Regions from separate parts of the Homo sapiens genome. Here region 1 is linked to region 2. Evidence: fine-mapped expression QTL. A gene starts in region 2. The other region holds a variant in brackets. All regions are shown on one strand. Distances are from middle to middle.

The links.
Region 1: its variant is fine-mapped to the expression of TCF3 in whole blood (TOPMed, PIP 0.94).

Annotation. Positions count from the first base shown.
Region 1 is chr19:1,617,299-1,625,298 of GRCh38, reverse strand. It overlaps TCF3 (transcription factor 3), which reads left to right. Exons shown (of 19, transcript NM_003200.5): 8 at 1,299-1,348; 9 at 2,884-2,986; 10 at 3,076-3,245; 11 at 3,329-3,461; 12 at 4,108-4,166; 13 at 4,253-4,331; 14 at 5,446-5,519; 15 at 5,825-5,983; 16 at 6,065-6,188. Among named protein-coding and RNA genes, the nearest start is that of UQCR11, 16 kb to the right of the region's middle. The variant G/T (reference allele first, on the strand shown) is at 3,002.
Region 2 is chr19:1,648,389-1,656,883 of GRCh38, reverse strand. TCF3 (transcription factor 3) reads left to right here and starts at 4,269. Exons shown (of 19, transcript NM_003200.5): 1 at 4,269-4,584; 2 at 6,597-6,707. The coding sequence starts at 6,636. RefSeq lists enhancers at 3,531-3,640, 3,761-3,810, 7,229-7,728, 7,741-8,050, 8,391-8,495 and silencers at 4,101-4,150, 4,161-4,290, 4,821-4,900, 4,991-5,220, 5,028-5,250 and 1 more.

The sequences.
Region 1 (8,000 bases), 31 kb after region 2:
GTGTCAGATGCCTCATGGGGCTGCATCGTGGCTCCTCTGCACTGAGCCCTGCTGCACACGCGGGCATCCCCCGCGAGGCACGTCACAGCCTCGGGCTCAGGAGCACTGGACGGCGCCTTGAACTACCCGGGGCCCATTCCAGGCAGCACAGTCGCCAGGCATGGCGGCACTCACCTGGGGTCCCAGCTTCTCTGGAGGCCGAGACAGGAGGATCACTTGAGGCCAAAAGTTGCAAACCATTCTGGGCAACATAGGGAGATCCCATCTTTGCGAAAAATTTTAAAAATTAGCTAAGTATGGTGGCACACACCTGTGGTCCCAGCTACTCAGGAGGCTGAGGCAGGAGGATGGTTTGACCCTGGGAGTTCGAGGCTGCAATGAGCTGCGATCGCACCATTGTACTCCAGCCTGAGCAACAGCGCAAGACCCTGCCTGAAAAAAATAAGCGTGAAATCACCCACAAAAAGCACAAAAACGTAAAAGATCGTGGCTCTGAATAGACCAAGGACAGGAGCCCCATGATGCGGGAGGAGGCCTCTGTTCCGCCTTGGCTGGGCACATGCGCCTGGGCCACTCGAACTTTTCCCACTGTGCGCACGTCCGTGAGTGATCAGGAAGGCGCCTGAGTGCTGGTTTCCGGGTTACGGATTTTATCCTGTAGGCGAGTTTGCAAACAGCAGCCCCTAGTGGTGAAGCCTGACTGCGTGGGATAGTCGGGGCCATCTTGGAAGGAGGGTGGGGCCAAGGGGCTTCTCAGCAGAGCCTTGGCTTAGAATCCACCAACTCCTCGTTTTCCAAACTGCGCGTCGCGGGAGAAAACCATCGTGGTTCTTCGACATCTTTGGAGCCGTATAAATAGACCCGGGGCTTTTTGTTGTTGTTGCTGCTGCTGCTGTTGTGTTTTGAGACGGAGTCTTTCTCTGTCCCCAGGCTGGAGTGCAGTGACACGATCTCGGCTCACTGCAGCCTCTGCCTCCCGGGTTCAAGTGATTCTCCTGCCTCGGCCTCCCGAGTAGCTGGAATTATAGGCACCCGCCACCACGCCCGGCTACTTTTTGTATTTTCAGTAGAGACGGGGTTTCACTGTGTTGGCCAGGATGGTCTTGATCTCTTGACCTCGTGATCTGCCTGCCTTGGCCTCCCAAAGTCCTGGTATTACAGGCATGAGGCACCGCACCCAGCCGACCCGAGGTTTTTAATATATGAAACGGGAATTGTGAGGGTCTCTCCTCCAGGGTGTAGGGCAGGGGTTGTTCTCATGGCCGGTGGCCGGTTCTCACCCCTTTTGCTTCTAACAGACACGCAGCCCAAGAAGGTCCGGAAGGTCCCGCCGGGTCTTCCATCCTCGGTGAGTCGCACGAGGGAGAAGGGACCCCACAGCTCGTCAGTGGCAGTGCCAGGCCCTGTGTCCTGGCGAAGCTTGGGAACACACATGGCGGGGTGGGCCCTGAGTGGACAGGCCCCCTGTGATTTCTGAGCCAAGATCTGAGCTCTGACCCGAGGCCGCCTCCAAGGGAAGGCGGGGAAGTCCTTCCCTAGGTCCAGCCTCTGTCTGTCTTGTTTTGAGAGAAAGGCAGTCCTGGTGGCTGAGGCCCCTTTAGAAAGGGCACAATTGTGCTGGGTGTGGTGGCTCATGCCTGTCATCCCAGCGCTTTGGGAGGCCGAGGTGGGTGGATCACCTGAGGTCAGGAGTTCTAGATCAGCCTAGTCAACATGGTGAAACCCCATCTCTACTAAAAATACAAAAATCAGCCGGGCGTGGTGGTGCGTGCCTGTAATCCCAGCTACTTGGGAGGCTGAGGCAGAAGAATCGTTTGAACCCAGGAGGCGGAGGTTGCAGTGAGCCAAGATCATGCCGCTGCCCTCCAGCCTGAGCAACAGAGTGAGACTCTGTCTCAAAAAAAAAAAAAAAAAAAGCGGGGGGTGCCGCAATTGGGGCTCCCTGTTACATCCTCACAGCTTCAGGCTGCCCCGCATCCCTGCCTCCCTACCAGGCCTCGCAGATGGTCCAGGCTGCTGTGCCACACTCCTGCGGTCTCATCTCGCTGGAGGGAGAGGGAATTTGCCGATTCCCTGGCTCAGTAGCCACCAACCACCCTCTGCCCAGTGCCTGTGCTGGCCCCAAGAGCCCTGGGCATACATCTCCTCACCCCTCCAGCCGACCAGCTCCCCACAGGCCTGGGTTCGGGGTTAGAGTCAGGTTGACTTCCCAGGCCAAAGGCGTGGTCAGGCTCTGCTCCCAACAGTATCACTCACTCCCCTCCTTCCCCAGGGTGCACTTTCTCTGCCCTGAAACCGCCCCCCAGTTTATTACAACATCAGGCCCACCCAGCATACTTCCCGCTCCAGCACAGCAGCAGACGTTACCAACAGGCCCCAGCCCCACAGTCCAGGCAGTGCCAACCAGTCAGAGCTGGCGCTACTCACAGACCCCTCTTCCTGTTACTTTAGTGAAGGACGAATGTTGCTCTGGGACCAAGGGAAGCTCAGCACTGGAAGATTGATTCCAGCTGGGGAACAAGGGAGAAGGATGGGATGGGGTGTTGGAGCTGGGGTTTTGATGGGTCGATAGGAGTTTTCTGGATTAAGGAGGAAAAAGGTTTAGTAGGCAGAGCCAGATCCAAGTCCTCAAGTACAAAGGTCAGAAGTTCAGGGAGGCGGGAGGTGGGGGCTGGAAAAGGAGTAGGAGAGAGAGACCAGGACATCATAAGAACCTCAAACTTGGCCAGGGGCTGGGATTTACCTAAAGGGGGGTGGCTTTACAGGGAAGGGAAACGGGGTGGTAGATGTGCTACCAGGAGGGGACAGGAGGCCGGCAAGGTGCATGGGCTGATCGTGGTCCCTCCGTCCTGACTGCACCCCCCACCGCCCACCCGCCCGCAGGTGTACCCACCCAGCTCAGGTGAGGACTACGGCAGGGATGCCACCGCCTACCCGTCCGCCAAGACCCCCAGCAGCACCTATCCCGCCCCCTTCTACGTGGCAGGTACATGGCAGGGCG[G/T]GGGCTCGCCAGGGACGGTAGGGCAGGGCTGGGGTTCCCCACTCGGCCCCCACCTTACCAGCTCCCCTCCACAGATGGCAGCCTGCACCCCTCAGCCGAGCTCTGGAGTCCCCCGGGCCAGGCGGGCTTCGGGCCCATGCTGGGTGGGGGCTCATCCCCGCTGCCCCTCCCGCCCGGTAGCGGCCCGGTGGGCAGCAGTGGAAGCAGCAGCACGTTTGGTGGCCTGCACCAGCACGAGCGTATGGTAGGACCCAGGGCAGGGGGCAGGGGGTGGGCGGAGGGTGGCAGTGCCCATCTAACCCACCCTCCTCCTGCCTGACCCCCCAGGGCTACCAGCTGCATGGAGCAGAGGTGAACGGTGGGCTCCCATCTGCATCCTCCTTCTCCTCAGCCCCCGGAGCCACGTACGGCGGCGTCTCCAGCCACACGCCGCCTGTCAGCGGGGCCGACAGCCTCCTGGGTATGGCCCCTCCCTGGGATGCGGCCTCTCCGAGGGGACACTGGGCTCCAGGCAGGGTCTGGGTGGGGGGTGGCGAGGACTCCACGGGAGGCGCAGGCGCGTCTGCTGGCCCTGAGAGCGGGTTGTTGTCAGTTCTCATTGTCCGCTGTCTGCAGGGCCTGCCACGTGCGTTGGGCTTGGGATGTCTGGAAACAGATCTTTGAGGAGCGGCTTTCCCGCCTTACAGCTGGGAAAGAGGCTCAGAGAGGGACTCACCCACCCAGGGTCAGAGAGGGACTCACCCACCCAGGGTCAGAGAGGGACTCACCCACCCAGGCCCAGAGAGGGACTCACCCACCCAGGCCCAGAGAGGGACTCAGTTACCCAGGCCCAGAGAGGGACTCACCCATCCAGGCCCAGAGGGGGACTCACCCACCCAGGCCCAGAAGGGGACTCACCCACCCAGGGTCCCCTGCCAGTGGCCTGTCCCCAGTGCCTCAACCCCTGCAGAGGCTGGTTTCAGGGGGTCAGACAGAAACCGGACCCGAGTCAGGCTGCTCTCCCTGGCGCAGCAGTGTCTGTGCAGGACGGCAGAACGCAGGAGAGCTTGCCGTCGGCGGCAGCACCCAGGCCGGGCTGCGTGGGCCTCACCTCTCTTCACCCACAGGCTCCCGAGGGACCACAGCTGGCAGCTCCGGGGATGCCCTCGGCAAAGCACTGGCCTCGGTGAGGCGTGGGGCATGGGGGGTGGCCAGGCAAGTGACCTGAGAGGCCGGCCCCTGACCGCCCATCTCTCCTGGTCCTCCTCGCAGATCTACTCCCCGGATCACTCAAGCAATAACTTCTCGTCCAGCCCTTCTACCCCCGTGGGCTCCCCCCAGGGCCTGGCAGGTCTGTGAGGGTTTTGGGGGGAGGGGAGGCTGAGGTCTGTGAGGGTTTGGGGGGAGGGGAGGCTGAGGTCTGTGAAGGCTTTGCGGGGGAGGGGAGGCTGGTTCTGGTGTCTGCACCTTGCTGGGATAGGCAGGCAGCGGGGAGGGAGCAGATGGCCCCCAAGGGCCCGTGGCATCGCTGGTCAGGAACCGACGGTGGAAGGGAGTCCCCCATGGGCTTGTGTTCCACTGGGCAATCCAGGAAAGCTGCCTAGTGGAGGCAGCCTCCAAGCCAGCCCTCCAAGGCTATAGCACATAACCAGGCAGTGAGGGAGGGCTGGGAGGTGGCGTCCAGGTTAGGTCACAGCACAGGCAAAGCCAGGAGGCAGGACCTGGCAGTTCACACTGCGTGAACATGAGGGGACATTGGCGTGCCTAGCAGCTCCCAGGTCCGATGGGGCCAGCATCGCCAGGGCTGTGGCCTGGACTCTAGAATGTGTGCGTGTTGCCATTTGCTCACCCACTGGGTATTTATTAGGTACTGACTGTTTACCCTGTGCGGTGCTCCGGCATGGGAGGGCAGACCCTCCTATCCCTGTGAGGACGTGCTTGCTTATCCGCAGGGGGTCGGGGGCAGGTACAGGAGGAGGGGGAGTGAGAACTGGAGGTTTCCAGAAGGTCTGGGTGTTTAAAAACACCCGTGAGTCCTCATCTCTGCCCCCATGGGAAGCGCCAGGAACCCTCACTTCACCTCGGCCTGTCTGGTCCCACCTGGAGCTTGCCACTTTCTTGCCTGCTGCTGGAGCCCAGCGTGGGTCAGCCAGGGTGGGGCAGCATGGGGAGGAGCCCCCTACTGTGTGCTGCCGAGCCACTTTATCCTCTGAGTGGGGAGTTGGATTTTGTAGATGGGGAAACTGAGGCTCAGAGATAGGAATGGCAGTACCCACTGGGCACCCAGCATCCCTGCCTGGCGGGGCCGAGCAGCTTTGCATCAGTGTGGGGTGCCCCGGAATGGCCATCTTGGGCATCACCGGAGGCTGGACAGGCGGGGTGGTTCATGAATCCCTCCCCATGGGCATCAGGCCATGCTCACACCCCGCCCCTCGCACCCCATTCACGTCCCCACTCCCTTCCAGGAACGTCACAGTGGCCTCGAGCAGGAGCCCCCGGTGCCTTATCGCCCAGCTACGACGGGGGTCTCCACGGCCTGGTGAGTGCCTGCCCCGCCCCACCCCACCCTTCCCCGACAGAATTTGCAGGACAGACGCTCCTTGAGAAGGAGAAACCTTTTTGTTAGTTTCTTGTAAATAAGCCCCAAGCTGTTATTGAGGCCTCGTGGCCGCCAAGGCACACACATTTTGTGTGTGCTCCCGGGCGCCAGATGCCTGGCATATGCAGCTTCCTGGGGAAGGGGAAGATGGGACCACCGGCCACTTGCATGCGGAAGGGACATGAATGGAGGCCTGTGGGGTCCCTCGGCTTGGGCCCCTCACCACCCATCCCCCCACCCTGCAGCAGAGTAAGATAGAAGACCACCTGGACGAGGCCATCCACGTGCTCCGCAGCCACGCCGTGGGCACAGCCGGCGACATGCACACGCTGCTGCCTGGCCACGGGGCGCTGGCCTCAGGTTTCACCGGCCCCATGTCACTGGGCGGGCGGCACGCAGGCCTGGTGAGCGCTGGGCGAGGGTGGAGCTGGGCAGTGGGCGGGGACCCGGCTCCCCCTGATGCACCCGTCTCCCCACGCCTGCAGGTTGGAGGCAGCCACCCCGAGGACGGCCTCGCAGGCAGCACCAGCCTCATGCACAACCACGCGGCCCTCCCCAGCCAGCCAGGCACCCTCCCTGACCTGTCTCGGCCTCCCGACTCCTACAGTGGTAAGCCCTTGAGCTTGGGACTGTCCGACTCCTGGTTCCAGTTGGGGAAACTGAGGCACTCTAGTGGTGGGGGTCAGGGTGGGAGCCCAGGGCAGGTGTCACCGTGGGGGCACCTGGTGACATGGGCGCCCCAGTCAGCAACTTCAGGAGGGTGGGTAAGACCGGCGGGGCCGGCGTTGGCCCTGGGCGTGTGAGGTGGACAGCTCTGGGCTGCCTCTTCATTCGCCTGCTCCCAGACGCTGTGTGCCTGGCAGCGCTCAGCACTGGGGAAGGGGCGAGGGGTGCAGCAGGATGCCTCTGCCTCAGGGGAGACAGACCAGGAGCTCGCTGCACAGTACAGGTGCCAGGGAGAAGGAACGAAGTGGCTGCGGTGGGTTGGGGGTTTTGTATGGCTTTGAAGATGGTGGCCCATGAGGCCACAAGGTGGTGTTTGGGCAGCATCTGGGAGGAGGCAAGAGTAGGCAAGTACCTGGAGGAGGAGGGTTTCAGGCAGAGGGCGCAGCCCAGGCAAAGGCCCTGGGGCTGGACTGCACCTGGGAGGAACAGCCAGGAGACCCGTGGGGTTGGAGCAGAGTGAGGAGAGGGAGAGAGGGAAGGGGGGAGGGCGGGGCAGGGCAGGTCATGCGGGGCCTTGTGGGCTGCGGGGAGGACTTGGGATTTGGCCATGAGAAAGGTGGCAGCCGTGGAGGGCTGAGGAGGGATGGGACCTGACCCAGGTGCTCACAGATACCCTCTGGTGGCTGCTTGGAGGACAGACTATGAGTGGCACCGGGAGACCAAGGCAGAGGCCACAGGGCTGGTCCAGGGGCCTTGGAGGGGTGAGCAGTGGGTGGGCCCTGCATCTCCTGAAGGCGGGGCCCACAGGATTTGTGATGGACAGGACTTGAGGGTGAGAGAAGGCAGGGTGGCTCTGGGATTTCTGGCCCGAGCTGTGGGTGACACTGGGGCTGGGAACTCCGTAAGGAAGGGGACAAAGGAAAAGGTTGGGGACAAATCTGGACCTGGGCCTGGGGATTGTTGAGTGTCTCAGACACCCATGAGAGGCCCAGGAGAAGGTGGGGTCATTGTGGGCGCTGTCCTGGCCCTGTGCCTTCCACCAGCCCAGGAATCCTGCCTGCTTTCCAGGCAGACTTTCCAAGTACCTTGATTCTATCACTCCTAGGCCAGGGCATCTCACCGCAGCGGCTCTGCCCCCAGGGGACACTGGGTGATGTCTGGGGACATCTACAGTTGTCAGGGCTGAGGGGAGCTCCTGGCATGGAGTGGGTGGGGGCCAGGGATGCTGCTCAGCACCCTGCAGTGCCCAGGACGGCCCCACCCCAGAGAAGGGTCCGGACCCACAGGTCAGCAGTTTCCAGGGGCAGCCCCAAGCTTAGTCTTTCACCCATAGGCTCCCCTCTGTTTCCTTCCTGTCCTTCACTTCGTGTGCTGAGGCCTGGGCTGGTCCTGGTGGCTGGCGTTGGCCGATTGGAGCAGAGTTCACTGTGGGGAGCGGGTGCATTTCTGAGGCTCCCCCTCAGGGTACGGGGGTCTCAGGGGATGGCAGCTGGTTTGCTCCATGTGAGCCCTGACTGATTCCTGGACTCCCCAAGCCCGGGTTTTGGGGGTGGCCCAGGCCCTGCTGAATGCAGAGTGGCCGCATTCATTTGGGGCACTGTGTACCCTTAAGCCACATGTTTTGCAATTATTGTTCTTGAGCTTCATGAACACGGCGTCCCACTAGCGTGTTCTTTACACGCTGGTTTGCTGGCTTATGTTGTGTGTGGGGTACATGTGTGGTGTGAGCGGCTGGGGTCCCATTGTGAGTGTGCC
Region 2 (8,495 bases):
CCCTCCGCTAGGGGAGAACAATCATAAGCCCCTAGCACTCCCAATCTCAGGAGGCTTCCCTGCCCAGGTCCAACCAGCAAGCCTGGAGACGCCTCCTCCCAGAAGGCAGGAAGAATGGGGCCGGGTGTGGTGGCTCATGCTGGTAAGCCCATCACTTTGGGTAGGCCAAGGCAGGAAGATCGCTTGAGGCCAGGAGTTCTAGACCAGCCTGGGCGACAGGGTGAAACCCCGTCTCTATAAAAAAATACAAAAATTAGCCAGGCGTGGCAGTGGGCACCTATAATCCCAGCTACTCAGGAGGCTGAGGCAGGAGAATCGCTTGACCCCAGGAGGTGGAGGTTGTAGTGAGCTGAGCTGGCACCACTGCCCTCCAGCCTGGACGACAGAGTGAGATTTCATCTAAAAAAAAAAATTTTTTTTTAAGAGATGGGGTCTTGCTGTGTTGTCCAGTCTGGTCTCAAACTCCTGGGCTCAAGCGATCCTTCCACCTCACCCCATCTCTGCTAAAATAAAATAAAAACGAAGTTGTGGAGAATAAGGGAATGGGCCCTACCCTGGCCGAGTCCCAGCCCAGGGCTCTGTGGGGTGGTCCTGATCTGGTCGTGTTGGGATCAGGCCCCTCACTGGAGGTCTGAGCTCGAGCAGGAAGCCCCCACTTTGGGAGGCGACACCGATCGCCCCAGCTGCCCGTGCTCAGTGGACGCCGGAGCGAGGTTTGTCCCAGGGCCTGACGTGGGTGATAAGTGCTGGGCCGCCACTCCCTTCTCCGCCCCTGCTGGAGGGCGCTGGGGGTTGGGGGAGTGTGTTCATACCCTGGGAGAAGTCAAAGGTGCCCACTTTAGGGACAAATGGAAACAGAAATCTGGAGGGTGGCCCCGAAGTCCTAATCCAAGCCCAGTCTCTCTGCGGACAGCTGTGGCCTGCACACCTACTGCGTCTGTCTCTGGAAACCTCGCCATCGCCGCCCCTCGCCCCCCTCGCTTCTGTGTCTCCCTAGTGGGAAGTTGTCCTTGGCCTCAGTTTTTCTGACATACGTGGTTCATGTTGGCGGGGGCGCACACAGTAGGTGTGGAGGGAACAGGCGGCAGGTGCAGAGGCCCTGCTCCTCCTCCTGCCCGGCCCCAGAGCAAAACAAAGGCCACAGTCAGGAGGATAGCTTGCTGCCTGTCCCCGTACCAGGGCCCTGGAGGGAGCACCCAGGCCTCGGGGCTGGGCAGAGGTGGTGGCCAAGTGGGGGGCCCCCACGGGCTGCTCCACCCAGTGACTCAGCCCCAGGACTGACCTCCTTGGGGAAAACAATGGTGGCTTGTGGTTACCAGCGGAACCTCCTGGCAGGCGCGAGCCCCAGGGTGCCCTGGGGCCCAGGGAGGAGACCCCTAGTCTCAGTTTCCTCATCTGTACGATACGTGGAACCACACAGGCAGGAGGACCTCACAGGAAAGAGCCACATTCAGGACTAGACAAGGGGTCCCTCATGGGTCATCCTGCCGGGACAGCAGGGACTGAGTCCATCACTGTCCACAGTGCTACGATGCGCGGCACAAGGCCCCGTTCGCTGTCAGTGCCCGATAATTGAATAGTCTTGTACGGCGCAGTGGCACACGCCTGTAATCCCAGCACTCTGGGAAGCCAAGGCGGGAGGATCACTTGTGCCTAGGAGTTCAAGACCAGCCTGGGCAACATAGGGAGAACCCCGTCTCTACAAAAAATACAAAATTAGCTGGGTGTGGTGGCGCGTGCCTGTGGTCCCAGCTACTCGGGAAACTGAGGCGGGAGGATCGTTTGAGCCCAGGAGGTCAAGGCTGCAGTGAGCTGTGATCTCACCACTGCACTCCAGCCTGGGCAACAGAGCGAGACTCTTTCTCAAAATAATAATAATAATAATAAGAAGAAGAAGAAGAAGAAGAAGAAGAAGAAGAAGTCCGTGATTGGATGGTTGCTTCCCTTCCGTGGGTGAAACTGAAGGGCTCCTCGGGAGGACTCCGGCTGCCACACTATGGCTTGGACCCTGAGTGTGGGTGGGGAGTGGCCCACAGTGAGCTCCCTACACTGGAATGGGGAGAGCCAGACCCGGCCACAGACACCCTCAGACCCATGGGGTCAGGGCTGGGCCACAAGGAAGGGCCGGGGGCTGAGGAGGCTGGGGTGGGATTGGAGCTGCTTGGAGACCCTGGCTCCGGAGAGGCCTCTGCGGGGGTGGGGGGCGGCTGAGGAAGGCAGGCATCAGCTGTGAGCACCTACTGTGTGCCAGACTCCCCCCTTCCACTGTCCAGATGGAGAAACCGAGGCCCGGAGAGTAGCACGAACTTGCCTGAGGTCACAGTGAGGTGGAGAGGGATGAGGGATTTGCAGCACAGACCCTGGGACCCACAGCCCTCTCCCCAGACCTGCGGCACGTGGAACTCTCTGGGCACGGAGGGTCGGACTGTGGACAGCCCAGTTTGGGTGTATAGCAGGAGGGGCTTGTGGCTTTGGTGGGGGGCCCCTGTGGCCCCGCCTCCCCGCCGGCCTGGCATAGGTGCAGCATTGAACTGTGATGACTCAGGGGCTCCAGATAGGGGTGGGAAAAGCCTCCCAGGTAGAGGACAAAGCAAACGTAGAGGCCCGGGGTGGGGATGAGCTTAGCAAGTTCTGGACCATCCAGAGGGCAGGATGGCTGGAGCCAAGCGGGCCAGCGAGATGGTGGCATCTTCCCAGGCTGGGAGTGGAGTGTAAATTTCCCTTTGGGGCCCCAGGGAGCCCTGGGAGATTGTGTTATTTTCATTTATTTGTTTAGTTATTTTACTTTTTTTTTTGAGACGGAGCCTCGTTCTGTCGCCCAGCCTGGAGTGCAGTGCTGCGATCTCTGCTCACTGCAACCTCTGCCTCCTGGGTTTAAGCGATTCTCCTGCCTCAGCTTCCCGAGTAGCTGAGATTATAGGTGTATGCCACCACGCCCAGCTAATTTTTGTATTTTTATTTTATTTTACTTATTTATTTATTTATTTTGAGACGGAGTTTCGTCCTTGTTGCCCAGGCTGGAGTACAATGGCGTGCTCTCGGCTCATTGCAACCTCCGCCTTTCGGGTGAAAGCGATTCTGCTGCCTCAGCCTCCCGAGTAGCTAGGACTACAGGTGCCCGCCACCATGCCCGGCTAATTTTTGTATTTTTAGTAGAGATGGGGTTTCACCGTGTTGGCCAGAGAGGTCTCGAACTCCTGACTTCAGGTGATCTGCCCGCCTTGGCCTCCCAAAGTGCTGGGAATACAAGCGTGGGCCACCGCGTCCGGTCAACTTTTTAAATTATTATTTTAAATTATTTTAAATATTTTTAGAGACGGGTGTGGGTGGGGGGGGTTTCACTATGTTGTTCAGGCTGTTCTCGAACTCCTGGCCTCAAGCGATCTTCCCGCCTCGGCCTCCTTCAAAGCGCTGGGATCACAGGCAGGAGCCACGGCGCCCGATCCTAGGCGGGGTCACTTTTTACTAAAATGTAGACACGGACTACTAAGAATCAGGAAGCCAGATCTGGCCTGAGTTCTGTCCAAAGTCAGGTCCAAATTCACAGATGCCGAGACGGAGACTCAAGTCGGCAAAGGCACCGCTGAGACTCCCCGCGGGGCTCTCTGACCCAGAGCCGGAGCCAGAGTCGGTTTTCCCGCCGGGAAAATGGGTCTGACGTAGCCCCCTCGGGGCCGTGATACCCGCTCGCACCACTCAGCACGCGGGGCCGGCCCGAGGAACGCAAATATAACCAAGCAGAAGGCTCCGCGCGGGCGGCCACGCCAACCTGAGAACAAAACTCCAGGACCCACCCCGGCCGCCTCTCGCGGCCTCTCGCTCGCAGAGTCCCGCCTCTGCTGAGGGGCGGGGCCGAGAAGAAAGGAGGCGGGGCCTCACCACGAATGGCTAGGATCCCCGCCCATCAGACTTTCGCGGCTTCCGATTGACCAGACTGCTCTGCCTTAGCTTTCAATCTCACGGGCCTTACTCGCTTGCGTCATGGACTAAGCGCACAGCTCGTGTGTGCTTCCGCGGACGGGGATAGTCCGTGATTTCTCCCCGCGCCGTGGCCCGACCGCCTCCTCTGCGCGTCCCCGCTCCCAGGCTCTGGACCTCACGGGATTCGGGGTCCTCACGAGGGTGCTCGAGAGGCCGAGCTAGGGCGTTCGGGCCCGAGCCGCCCGGAGGTGGCGGAGGGATCCGCGTGGGCCGCCGGGCGGGGCACTCGGGGGCGGGGCAGGGGCGGGGCCTGCACGGGGCGGGGCGGGGCGGCGCGGGCGGGGGGCGGAACATGTCTCCCGCCGCAGGAAGATGAGGCAGCGGCGGCGGCTGCGGGCGTAGCGGGCCGGAGCCGACGCGGCGGCGGGCACCGCGGGCACCGCGCACGCCGCTGCCCCAGGGGCGCCCCGGCCGGCCGCGCGCACGGGCCCCGCGGGACGGGCCACGCGGGGGTGGGAGGGGCCCGGGCCACGCGCGCCGCCGCCGCCGCCCACGCGCGACCCTCGGGGGCCCGGCCGCGACGCACCTTTGTCCGGGGGGGGGCCCCCCCGCTTCATGCCGCCGCCCCCCCCCACGCGCCGCGTGCCCGGCCGCGCCCAGCAGGTGAGCCCGGCGGGGGGCGGGGGGCGCGCCCGGTACCCCCGTGCTTTGTGCCCAGGGAACCCCGGCCCGCCCCGCGCGCGCTTGTTGGGGGGGGGCGCGGAGGAAGTTGGGGCGGGGGCGGTGTCGGGGGGCGCCCCGCGGCCCGGGAGTCATTGTTCTCCAACTTCGCGCGGCGCCGGGGGGGCGGCGACGTGGAGGAGCCCGGAGCTCGCCAGGCCCGCGTCGCCCCCGTCGGGCCGGGCACTTCGGGAAACTTTAAGCAGCCCCGGGCGGGGGCGCGGGGGGCGCCGGACGGGCTGTGCAACTTAGGCGCGAGGACCGTCCCCCCCAGCCCGGGCGCACGGGGACCCCGGGGCGCCCCCTTTCTCGGGTAGAGGGGGGCCCGGCCCGGGCGCCGGAGTTTGGGGTGGGGAGCGCGCGGGAGGGACGTCCTTTTGTCTGCGCGGGGAAGGTGCCGCGCGCTGCAGGCGCTGGTCGGGGCCGGGCGGGCCGGGGGGGGGCGCGCGGGTAACATCTGCTCCGCGTTAATGCGGGGCGAGGCGGCGGCCGCGCTGCGAGCTTCAAAGGCTCCCGGGCCGCACCGCCTGCACCGGCTGCGGGGGGAGGGGGGTCCGGCTTCCCGGGCCGCCTCCCCCCGGGAAAAAGGCGTTCCAGCGCGCCCCCCGCCTTCGGCGCCGTGCAAAGTGGCTTCAAACATTCTCCAAGTCTCTCAAAGTCCTTGGGACGCCCCAGAAGTCTTCCAGCTCCCGTAGAATGCCCGTTTTAGCTCGCCACCCCCCCAACTAAGTCTGTCTTAAAATCGGTTTCAGCTACCCCACAAAAAAGTGCGGTTTCGTAGTCCTCAAAAAAAGTCAGTTTCACACGCCCTCCAAAAAAGAAAAAAACTGAGCGGGGGAGGGGCTGCGCTGGGGCGCCCGCTTCACACCCGGCCTCCAGTTGGCAGACAAAGAGGGGATTTCTCTGCTTCTGAAGTTGGGTCTCCCTCGACCTCGGAGGCTCCTCCCCACCCCCAGCCTCGGAGGTGTCTCCCGGGCTGCCCCCGTCCCCACCTGGGGACCCCTGGGGAAAGTCGAGACTGGAGGGGCCTGGAGTGCATTTCTTTGGAATGGAAATTTTTCTCTGTACCTTTTTCTGGGGGTGGAATGGGTCTTGGCAGGTGGATCCCCCATCCCCCATCTTAGAATGGAGCCCCCTGGGACCACGCGGGAGCACCCTGGTCTTGAGACGCTCTCCCCGCTCATGGAGGGCAGGCAAGGGATGTTGTCAAAGTTTTGCTTAAAAATAATTCCCGGATACATCGCGACAGTAAAGCAATCTAGGGCTGTTTTTTTTTTCTTTCCTGAATACTGTTGGGGTTTTCTTGGGGGGAGGGAGATTGAGGGTGGAGGAAAGCTTTGCTGGTCCCTGCATAGGATGCGCGTCCCCCCCACCCCCGGCACTTTAAGTCTTGAAGCTTGTAAAAGAGTTTCGTGGTTTTCTGACTTGTGGATTTCCTTCATGTTGAATTTGGGGGCGACCTGGTCTTCAACGGGCTGTGCCATCTGCTGGGGGAGGGGGGAATCACCAAATTTCCCTCGGGGCGGGGTAGGATCGGGCTGTTCCTCCCTTTCCCGGGGGTAGGGGGCCTCAGAGGAAGCCCGGGGTTGGTTGGAAATGAGAGAGTTGGAGAAAGGAGAGGTTCTGGCTGCCCTGCGTGCAGTTTAAACTTGGCAACTTGATGCCCTGGTGTTCCCTGGGGGAGTTAGGGAGTTTATATTTGCACACCCTCCCCCCATTTTTCAGACTCCCTGTGGTCTCTGGGGAGGACTCTGCAGGGACCTAGACTCTGGAATTCCAGCTTCCCTGCGCCTGCTCCCAGGGCTCCCCGTGCCCCCAGGGCTCTGCTGGAACTCAGACCCCAGGGCGGTTGAGGGTTTTTTAGGTGGCTTTTAGCACTCTGTGCTTTGACCACTCACAACTCTTCTCCCCTCCCTGTTTCTCCCTGTCCATCTGTCCCCACATCCACCAAGCAGGGTTTCCAGGCCTGAGGTGCCCGCCCTGGCCCCAGGAGAATGAACCAGCCGCAGAGGATGGCGCCTGTGGGCACAGACAAGGAGCTCAGTGACCTCCTGGACTTCAGCATGGTGAGCCAGGACCCCCGCCCAGCCCCCGACACCCCTTTGCCTCCACAGTTCACGGGAAGGTTTTCAGGGGAGAGTGTTTGCTGAATACTTCAGCGATGGAGCCTCAGCTGTTTGGATGGGAGGCCCCGGTGGGGCTGGGGGAGTGGGCCGCTCTCTGGCAGGAGGCTGACAGCGCACGGCAGCACGTGTGCTATGGGGCTTTTGCCCGGACGCAGCATTCTACAGCCTACTGCTTTACAGATGGGGAAACTGAGTCCTCAGGGGCATGGTCCTGGGCCCCCAGCTTGGCTGGGTAAGCAAAATGCGGCCTTGATCTTCTGATCTGTAAAATGGGCCTGATCAGGGTCGCTTACCTCATTGTAGATACAAAAATTAAAAGTAAGTAAAAGATCACTGCACTCCAGTCTGGTTGACAGTGAGACCCTGGAGACCCTGTTTCAGTAAATGGGAGGGGGGCTGGGCACAGTGGTTCCCACCTGTCATTCCAGCACTTTGGGAGGCTGAGGCGGGAGGATCGCTTGAGGCCAGGAGTTCCAAGTCCAGCCCAGGAAACATAGTGAGGCCCCATTTCTCAAAAAGACAAAACAAAACTCAAAAAATTAGCTAGGAGTGGTGGTAGATGCCTGTGGTCCCAGCTACTTGGGAGGCTGAGGCAAGGAGAATCACTTGAGCCCTGGAGGTTGAGGCTGCAGTGAGCTGTGATTGCGCCACTGCACTCCTTCCTGGGCGATAGAGTAAGATCCTTCCTCAAAGAAGTAAAGGAGGGGGTGCCCAGTGCTGAGCGGACCACCCTCCGTGAACAGGGCAGACACAACCTGCCCCATACGGGACTCCCCTGGTGGGCAGAGGATGCGGGCATGAAACTGACTGTGTGGTTAATTAGTCACACGTGGGTGCTGAAGTTAAGCTGCCAGAAGCCGAGCTTGGGCCAGGAGGAGGCTGGATTGGGATTGAGTGGGAATTCATGGGCCACCGAGCAGACAGCAGCGCCACCATTGTGACTGCCACGGTTATCACTGCGGAGCAGGCAGGCCCGGTGGGGAGGGCGGGGCGGCTTCTTCAGAGTCTTAGGTGGTTGGATCTGTCCCTGTACGGCCCATTCTCCACCTGGGTGAACGGAGGCTCAGAGGGTGCTGGTCCTCAGAAGTCACACAGTTCAGGCAGGTGCAGTGAGGCTGGAATGCCGGAGCCCCCTGGGGTACCGGCCGCTGACGGGTGCTGTAAAGGCCCGGGGCCTCGGTTTGCCTGCTGGTACAGTGGGGCCATGTGTTATGGGTTCCTGGAGAAGCCCAGGGACCTTGGTTTGTTTCTTCTGGCCTGTCTACAGATGTCCTTAAATTCTGCTCCCCCCCCCCCCCCATGCCCAGTGGCAGCGTTTGGGGTTGAAACAGGTTGGGGGAGGGCACTTTCAGTCTGAATTTAACCCTCCCGCCTATGAGGCACAGGCCACTGAGGTCTGTCAAAAACAAAAGTCCCCAAACTGAAACAACACCGGCCACCCTGCGGAAAAAAACAGCCCAAGGGCCGGAGGGGCCAAGGCTCCGGAAGGGCCATGCTGGTATTTTTAAGCCCCGTTTTATTTTTGCTTCCCTGGCTGAGTAACCCGAGGTGCAGTTGGGTTGTTTTTTGTTAAACTGACAAGTCACAGACCGCTGGGCTGGAACAGACCAGCGTTTGGGGGGAGGGGGCACAGGTTCAGCCCCAGGACCTGACTCCTCACCTCAAGCCACTCAGCACGTCTCCCCATCCCGGGTCGGAGCCGTTCCCAGATGAGGAAACAGGCTGGGA